2 separate regions of the Homo sapiens genome follow, and region 2 is linked to region 1. The links come from fine-mapping of genetic effects on gene expression. A gene starts in region 1. The other region holds a variant in brackets. All regions are shown on one strand. Distances are from middle to middle.

What was found. PIP is the estimated chance that this variant, and not a neighbour inherited with it, causes the effect.
Region 2: its variant is fine-mapped to the expression of GZMB in whole blood (INTERVAL, PIP 0.99).

The regions. Positions count from the first base shown.
Region 1 is chr14:24,632,059-24,636,452 of GRCh38, reverse strand. It overlaps GZMB (granzyme B), which reads left to right and starts at 2,263. Exons shown (of 5, transcript NM_004131.6): 1 at 2,263-2,347; 2 at 3,391-3,538; 3 at 3,994-4,129; 4 at 4,335-4,394. The coding sequence starts at 2,293. It overlaps GZMH-AS1 (GZMH and GMZB antisense RNA 1), which reads right to left and starts at 3,351. Exons shown (of 3, transcript XR_007064087.1): 1 at 3,105-3,351; 2 at 1-2,157. RefSeq lists an enhancer at 1,685-2,884.
Region 2 is chr14:24,677,686-24,682,079 of GRCh38, reverse strand. No RefSeq gene overlaps it. Among named protein-coding and RNA genes, the nearest start is that of GZMB, 46 kb to the right of the region's middle. RefSeq lists a silencer at 2,884-3,063. The variant T/G (reference allele first, on the strand shown) is at 2,429.

The DNA of each region.
Region 1 (4,394 bases):
TCAGCAAGGATGCAGAGAAATAGGAACTTTCCTATGTTGCTGATAAGCAATGCAAAAGGGTACAACCACTGTGGAAAACAGTTTGGTGGTTCCTTAAAAAATTAAAAATAGGATTATTGTATAACTCAGAAATTCCAAAAGTATATATATTTGGTATATATCCAAAAGAACTGAAAACATATTGTTCATGCAGAAATTTGTACACAAATGCTTATTATTGCTGCATTAGCTACAATAGCCAAAAGATGAAAACAACCCAAATGTCCATTGACAGATGAACAAATAACTTGTGGTATAAACATACAATGGGAATATTATTTTTCCATTAAAAAGAACGAATACTGGCATGTGCTACAGCTTGTATGAATCTCAGAAACATTATTACAAGTGAATGTAGCCAGCCACAACAGGTCATGTATTGTGTGATTCCGTTTATATGAAATATCCAGAGGTGGTGGTTGCAGATTTTGAATGTGCTAAATGTCACTGAATTGAATACTTTAAAATGGTTAATTGTATGTTATGTGAATTTTACCTCAATTTTTTAAATGGGTCATAAACTTATGTTTAGCATAATCCCCTTTTAATTTTAAAAAATGCAGATATTACATGAGAAAAAATGTGCTAGAGCATATTTCAAGACATTAAAGATGGTTATCAGTGAATGATGAGAAATTAGGTAATGTTTATTATTTTCGCTTTGCTAAAATTATTTAAAAATTACTTGCATATTAAATTTTTTAATGCCTAGGAAAGAAAGACTATAGTTGTATTGACTAAGATTTCTACGAGCATGGGGAAAATGCTTAATTTGTAGGGTTAATCAAGGATAAAATAAATTGCATTGTATGTACAATGTGATCCCAAGTATTTAAAACACACTGCTTATGGTAACAGTCAGTCTGTGGGAGACAGGTTAAAAAGTGATATTTTCCCTTCCTACTTTCCAAATTTTCTTAACAAACATATATTATGACTATAATCAGAAAAAATTATTTTTAAAACGTCTACTATGGGGCAAGCTAGGTTCAAAAAATAGAAGTTTGATAAATGTAGTTGGCTTGCTATTGACAAGGAAGACGTTTACACTGGAATTCTATATTTTGAGATATACCATTCCTCATAGAAAAATTTCCTCACAGAAAATATAAAGGTGGAAACAAATCACAAGAATCGAACCATGTAGAGAGACTTAGTTGTCTTTTAACAGAATTGGGCACGGGCTGTTCAGAAACAACAATCTTTCACATCCATTATAATGATAGCATTAGTGTAGTTTGTTTAGCAAATGTTTACTGTGAGCCTGTTATGTGCTGAGCCTGCTATGTAAGAAGTGTGGCTCTCTGGACAGGAGACAGAATACTAAACAACACAACTACTGATCTTTGGCTGCCTGGCATGCTTCCTCACTTCATATGGTATCAGCAATTTAGCACCACAAACGTCCTTTAGAGAACCAGCCCTTTCTCATTCTTGGTTCTAGTGGCTTGAGTAGACTGACCCCAGCCTACCCAAAGTGGATTTGACTCCTAGCAATTCATTAATCTAGCCCAATAAAATGTCAAGTACAGGACTTTTATTGAAAGCATTCAGAAAAGAGGTGGACTCTCACACTAAACATTTGTAACTAAATAAGGGATGTTAGAAATTCTCTAGAAAGGAAGCTATGATAATAAATGGGTTGCTAGATGGGTCTAGTAGATGGTGGCCATGCTTTGTTACTGCCTTGTGTATTGTGCTACCATAGCCCTCCCCAAACTGTACTCTGGCTCCTGGCATTTCCGTCTCTTCAACCAGATGGTCAGCTCTCTAAGTGAAGGAGACACATCTCCAACATGCTTGGTTCTAGCACAACAGAAGGGCTCAAACACATACCTGCTAAAGAAACTATCCTGATGGATTTAGCAGCATGGCCATGAGGCATTGGCGGTTCTATCACTGGGAACTCAGGTTTCTGGTGCTCCAGTACCTCTACTGGCTGATACCACATCCTACAATTCACTTCATAGGCTTGGGTTCCTGCTCTGGGCTGAATAGGTGGTCCACTCTGAGTCATCAGCTGTGGGTGATGATGTGGTCACTGCATGATTCTCACACAAGCACCCAGAGGACGTCATCAGGCAGAGGCAGTGGGGGTGGGCAGCATTTACAGAAAATCTGTGATGAGACACCACAAAACCAGAGGGGAACATGAAGTCACTGAGCCTGCTCCACCTCTTTCCTCTCCCAAGAGCTAAAAGAGAGCAAGGAGGAAACAACAGCAGCTCCAACCAGGGCAGCCTTCCTGAGAAGATGCAACCAATCCTGCTTCTGCTGGCCTTCCTCCTGCTGCCCAGGGCAGATGCAGGTGAGTGACCGTCTCCACCCTCGGGGGCCCAACCCCATCCCACAGGTCTCCTGCCCTTTCTCCACATTCCTGATCCATCTATCTACCAGGAATGTTCTGAACTCCAGCTCCCATTCTACCAAGACCCCCCAAGTGTGATGCTGGATAAGCTATCAGCAGGAATGGCAGAGCAGCAGGCCATTCTCAAGAAGAGCCAGTGGGTACTATCCCTTCCCCAGAGCCCACCTTTGTCACCTGGAGAGTAGGACTTTCCTAGAAGTAAATGGCAGAGGATGGGAAACTAGAAAAGAGAAATATTAAATTATTCTAGAGTAGGCCTGGCTTCTGTTTCTGGGATAAGACAGGTGCTTCTCTCACTGTCTACTTAGGAGAGAAACCCAGAGCTCAGCTGACAGCAGAATTGGTACAATCACTGTCCTCAGAACACTGTTAATGTGTTTGCTCAGTCCCATTCTCCAACTCTGCTTTTCTTCCCTGGCCTTTGGTGGCTCCCCTCTTTCCAAGGATGAGGCACTACGGCAGGCCCCAGCTTCCCTGCTTTCTAGAATTCCACCAGCACTGCTCTACCAGCCCTCATCCAGAGGCTAACTGGAGCCAGTCCATCATGCAGCCATGAACATTTACTGGGCACCCACTACATGTCAGGCTCTAGGAAACAGGATATGACAGTATCTAGATCCCTCCACTTACACCCTGGCCATTAGAAAGCAGCACTATCCTAGACACCACAGGACTCATAAGGGTCTTGGAAACTCACCTGAAACAAAGCAAAGTCAGGAGAGGAATGATCAGGAGCCTCTGGGATTTCACTGTCCCTAAGACAGGTATGCTCGCCTTCAACTACATATGGAAGAAAGATTTACAGACCAAAGTCTGCTGTTCTTCCCTTTTTCAGAGCAGGAAATTGAAGCCCCTTCCTCCAGGCCACTCCCAACTCCAGGCTATCCCAGGCTCCCAAATGCCCAGGAGTTCTGGAGCCACTAAGCAGGTGCCCACCCAGCAGATTCCATGGGTGCCCACAAGCAGACAGACTTTTCCTTCAGGGGAGATCATCGGGGGACATGAGGCCAAGCCCCACTCCCGCCCCTACATGGCTTATCTTATGATCTGGGATCAGAAGTCTCTGAAGAGGTGCGGTGGCTTCCTGATACGAGACGACTTCGTGCTGACAGCTGCTCACTGTTGGGGAAGGTGAGGAGCAGAAAACAGCCCACACCCTCCTGGAAACACTCCACAGAGACCCCTGCCTTCTTCCCAAGGAGCTCCCTGGGCTCCTGTGAACACACATGCCAGGAGGTCTCCTTAGAGGGTGAGAAAAGGGCAGTTAAGTTTGTGGAGAGAGGGGAAGGTTGGTTCCAGAGGTGCTGCTGAAGTAAGAAACAGCAGAGTGACCAAGCCTGCCATATTTAGAACTGGGGGCATACTTTGGCATAGAATACAAACTGAAGCAATTCCACCTGTGTTTCTAGGGGGAACCGAACCCTGAGAAACCTGGTGCAATTACCAGAATTCCAATTCCTGGGGACCGACTGTCCCCTTAATTTCCCCTCAGCTGCAGCCCTGCCCCAGCTGTCACCTGCTCTTCACTGTCTCTGGGCTGTATACCCTGTGACTCCACCCCCATCCTCACTCTGCTCTCTGTGCAGCTCCATAAATGTCACCTTGGGGGCCCACAATATCAAAGAACAGGAGCCGACCCAGCAGTTTATCCCTGTGAAAAGACCCATCCCCCATCCAGCCTATAATCCTAAGAACTTCTCCAACGACATCATGCTACTGCAGGTGAGGCACACTCCTGCCACTCTTGCTCTTCTTGGTCCAGTTGGTTCCACTCCCCCTGGAATGCCGGCCCTTCCCTCCTTTCCATCCTGGCCTCTTGGTTAGTTCCTATGCCTCAGAGGAGAGGGAAGATTGTGCAGCCCCATCACTGTGTCGGGGCCCAGAAGTTCGTTGGCTGACCTGGACTTTCTTGCCTCTTCCCCACCAGCTGGAGAGAAAGGCCAAGCGGACCAGAGCTGTGCAGCCCCTCAGGCTACCTAGCAACAAG
Region 2 (4,394 bases), 46 kb before region 1:
GTAAATTCTAGACATCAAGGCACAGTACTCCTAAGTCCTCTATTTCTCTAGCAGTAAAGCTGGTTCATGCAAAGCTCAGTCTCCCCTGGGGGCCCTTGCATGTCCATCATACACAGGTTATTTACTATAAAACCTCTAGAAAAATCCCTTATGAGGTCTGTTCCTTCCTTCCTAGGATATTCAAATGGACATTCTCTTTCCAAACAGCCCATAACTATCAAATCACTTGATTTTTAGTGCAAAGAAAGAACAATTGCACCAGAATCCGGTGACCATGCTTTTTGGGTAGCTCACAGAGAATTTCATAATTCAGAATTAATTAGGCAGTGAGCAAGAACAAGAGGCATATTTTGGTGTATTAATTCATGCCAAGTTCAAACTCATTCCATCTCTGTTGCCCGGTGTGAATAATTATGCCATTAATCCCAGGCAGGAGGAGAGCTATTGTGACTACAACACATTTCTAAAGCAAATAAAGAAAAATGTCACTTCTCCCTTTCAACTAATGCTCTGAATACAGCTACATAATAATAATAGTCATTTATTTATAGGGCATAAATTCCCTAGGGCTCAATAAGCCACAGGATAAGCAAAATGCCAGTTAAAGAGAAAAAAAACAGAACTTTTCCAGTTATTAATAATTCTGAAACAAAGCACTTGTTGGGGAGAATGACCAAGAGGAGAAACTGAAAATTTAAGGAGAGCTTGGAAAAGGGCTCAAAGAAAGAGACAGTTGTGTGGCTTTTTCATTTTCTTCTCCCCTCCTGTTACATACTGCTCCCACTGTGACTCAGAGGGCCAGCTGTCTGGGGAAGAAAAATTTGACACATTTTTTAGGTTGGTGCAAAAGTAATGGCAAAAACCACAATAACTTTTGCACCAACCTAATAATCAGCCCTGAATGTCACCCTGATGCTACACACCCTTTGCTGTGAAAGCAAAATAGGTCGACCTGCCCCCTTCCCCATTTCTGAATTCCTTTCCAACTCACAGATGGCTTATTGAGCATAGAAGTATTGGAGGATCAGTGTGGTTTCCCATCCAGCCTCTCTTATGAGGGTCAGAAATGCATGGGGAGTAGCAGTCAAGAGGGTGCCCTATGTGCGTCATTTCCAGCTTCACAATGTTGAAGAGGAGATTGGGGATAGACAGAGGAGTGGCACTATGCAGAAGCAGTTCTACATTTTTCTACATTTCCTCTGAGACAGAAGGAATAGGGTCGAGGCCCACCAGGCAGGAGCCCTGAGTGCCAGAGGTCACAGAAGCAGTGGGGATCAGTCCACACTGCCCTGACACTGGCCCTTCTGCAGAGAGGTGGTGGCTGCTCTGGGTTCACACGTAGCCCTGCCCATTCCGCCAGTCAGAGCTGGCAAGAGATCCTTTAGCCACAAAGGCAGAGTGGCTGAGTTAGGAGATGGGGCAGGCCCTTCTCCTCAGTGGCTCCCACACCTAGCAGTGTCCAGAACACAATTCAGTGTTGCATGAACGAAATGAAGTGCTCTCAGTCTGCCTCTCATTCTTTCTTTATTTCACTTGGGGAAGTCACTTGACTCATTGAGTTTCAGTTTTCCTAGGTATAAAATGCTAACGATATTATATTATGAAGATGAACTATTGGAATTGCTATTTTTGTGGCCCAGAATTTTTAGAATGTCAACAATTTCACAAGGTTCAAACTAATAATTTATTTATTCCTTCATCCATCAATGAATGGCCACTATATGCTTAAAGCTGAGGATTCAGCAAGGAACAAAACAAATGATCTGGCCATGAATCTGACATCTTAGTTACATCTTAGTCAGGGGAGGGCAGAGTATGAACACACAGAGACAGGGAATCTTCTCTCAGGGGTAAATGCTGAAAGAAAAATACATCAGGATATGGGACCAGAGAGTGTGGAGGTGGCTACCCGTGACAGGGTGGCTAAGAGAGTCTTTTCTGAGGGGTTGGCATTCGAGTAGAGACCTGAAGAAAGCAAAGGAGAAAATAAAGATCTGGGAATAGAGCATTTCAGAAAGGACATTCCTGCAGGTGGAAAGGAGTGAGGGGTGGGAAGAGTGGAGGAGGGCAAGGTCAGAGAGTAGGCCATGGGAAAGACTTTGCAGTTTAATTCTAAATGAGACAGGAAGTCATTGGAGGGTTCTGAACACAGATGTGATACATTTTTCTAAGATCGCTGTGGTTGTTTAAGTGAAGCAAGTGAGGGCAAGGGGAGGGGAGAACGACGCAGACCACTTAGAATGTTACTGCTGTCATCAAAAGAAAGATAATGAGGACTTGGACTAAGATGGTAGCGGTGTCCGTGCCAAGAAGTGGTTATATTTGGAATATATTTTGAAAGTGGAGCTAACAGGAATGACCAGTGAACTGGCTGCAAGGTGCGGGAAAGAGAAAGGTCAAGAATGACTCCTAGGCTTTGGGCCTATGG[T/G]AATAAGTGGCTGGCGGTGCCAAGGGGGAATGGGGTGGAGCAGGGTCGGGAGAGGAGGAATCTAGAGTTCTGCTTTGCACACAATTGCATTTGTTTTGTCTGTCGGTACATGTGGAGAGTTGAGCGGGCCATCTGGAGCTTCATGGAAATGTCAGGGCTAGAGATAGCTCCTTCCAGCTATTTCGGGGCTAAACTTAGATCAAACACATGCACACTCTTGGGGATCTGTAAAGGACAGGACTGTATGAACACAAGGAATAAGTGACTAGATGCTTTCCCTGGGTTGCTATGTCAAATATGCTTATTAATATTTTAGAAACCAAACCTTTCTTCCCATATTCTAATTGATCGTCTATTCAACAAGTTTTACAATATAAATTTTAAGAATGTGCATTTTTCTAGGAACTCGGTAAAATTACGATTATTTGAAAATAAAATAATGTCTTTTACTAATAGTTTTACTTTCCCTGAATTGCTCCCTCACGTGGCGGGTAAAAGAATCTGCTCTGGACTCCCCAGTCTAGACAGTAAAAGAACTCAGTCTGGACACTAGAGGGCGCAATGCAGACAGTCAGAGCAGCCGCAGGAACTGAAAGGCGGCAATTCAGGAGTTCGCAGATCACTCCCTCTCCTGCTGTGTAAATCAGGGGTCCCGGCATTATGAGTCAAGGAGGGCAGCCCCCAGGCCACCAACGTGTGACCATTTTGATCAGGGGGATAATAGGGCCAGGCAGGGTTTTTCCAAAGGGAGCCCCTGGCAAATTTAAGGCACATCAGAGGAGAAAAAAGAAGTTAAGGAGAGAGGACACGTCAAGGAGAAAGAGAAAGAAAAATAAAGTAAGCAAAAATGAGGGAAACCAAGAAGTGCCTATTATAGAAGAATGGGAGAATTCCAGAAAGTCAGGGACAGAAAGGGCCTCAGAGACTTTTTATTTTTTTCTTTAAACTGGGTCTCGCTGTGACACCCGGGCTGGAGTGCAGTGGCGTGATCACAGCTCACCCCGACCACCCTGGGAGGATCAAGCGATCCTCCCGCCTCAGCCCCCCGAGTAGCTGGGATTACAGGTGCACAACATCACGCCTAATTTTTGTATTTTTTGTAGAGAAGGAGTTTCACCATATTTCCCAGGCTGGTCTGGAGCTCCTGGGCTCAAGAAATAAACCTGCCTTGGCCTCCCAAAGTGCTGGGATTACAGGTGTGAGCCACCACGTCCTGCCCAAAGACCATTTTTATTGAACTTTCTGTTTCCCAGATAAAAGGCTGAGGTGCTTCCTGGAGTTAAGTTTGGAGGCCTCCCAGGGTTGCTGTGCTCTCAGTCAGTGGTCTTCATTTCCCTACCATGTCATCTTCACAAAGTGTATGAACCTTACCAGGTGTCTCCTAGATGTCACATCATTCTCAACAAGCCTTAATGTGAGCACCCACTTACTTCACATATTTATTTTGCTGAGTCCCAAATGAACTGTCAAGTACGAATGTGGAATGCTGCTATGGCATAAGTATGATGATACAACTTGTACTGACATGCTAGATACAATAAATCTGCATTTAAGATGTAATTACAATAACTGGTTTTGTGGCTACAACTTTAAAAGGGCTGTGGGGATGACATTCAATTTCCCAGCATTCTTAAAACATTAAAAAAGTTTTGCATGCCTGCAGCATGCAAAATTATAGATGAAGAATCAAAGTTTTGGTATCACAGATATGGGTTTAAATCCTGGCTTTCAGTGGTTGCTAGCCCATGATTTGGAGCAATATTTCTAAGACCTCTTGCCTTCTCATCTATAAAATGAAAATAATAATAGTACTATGTCAGAGGATTGTTGTGAGGGTTAAATAAGATTGTTGGTAAAACTTCTAGTTCATTGTATCCTCTCAATAAGCAATTTGTAATGTTCACGTCAGAGAAAAACTGATATCCTTAAACAATAAAAGATTCTGAAAACAAATAGGGAAATGGAC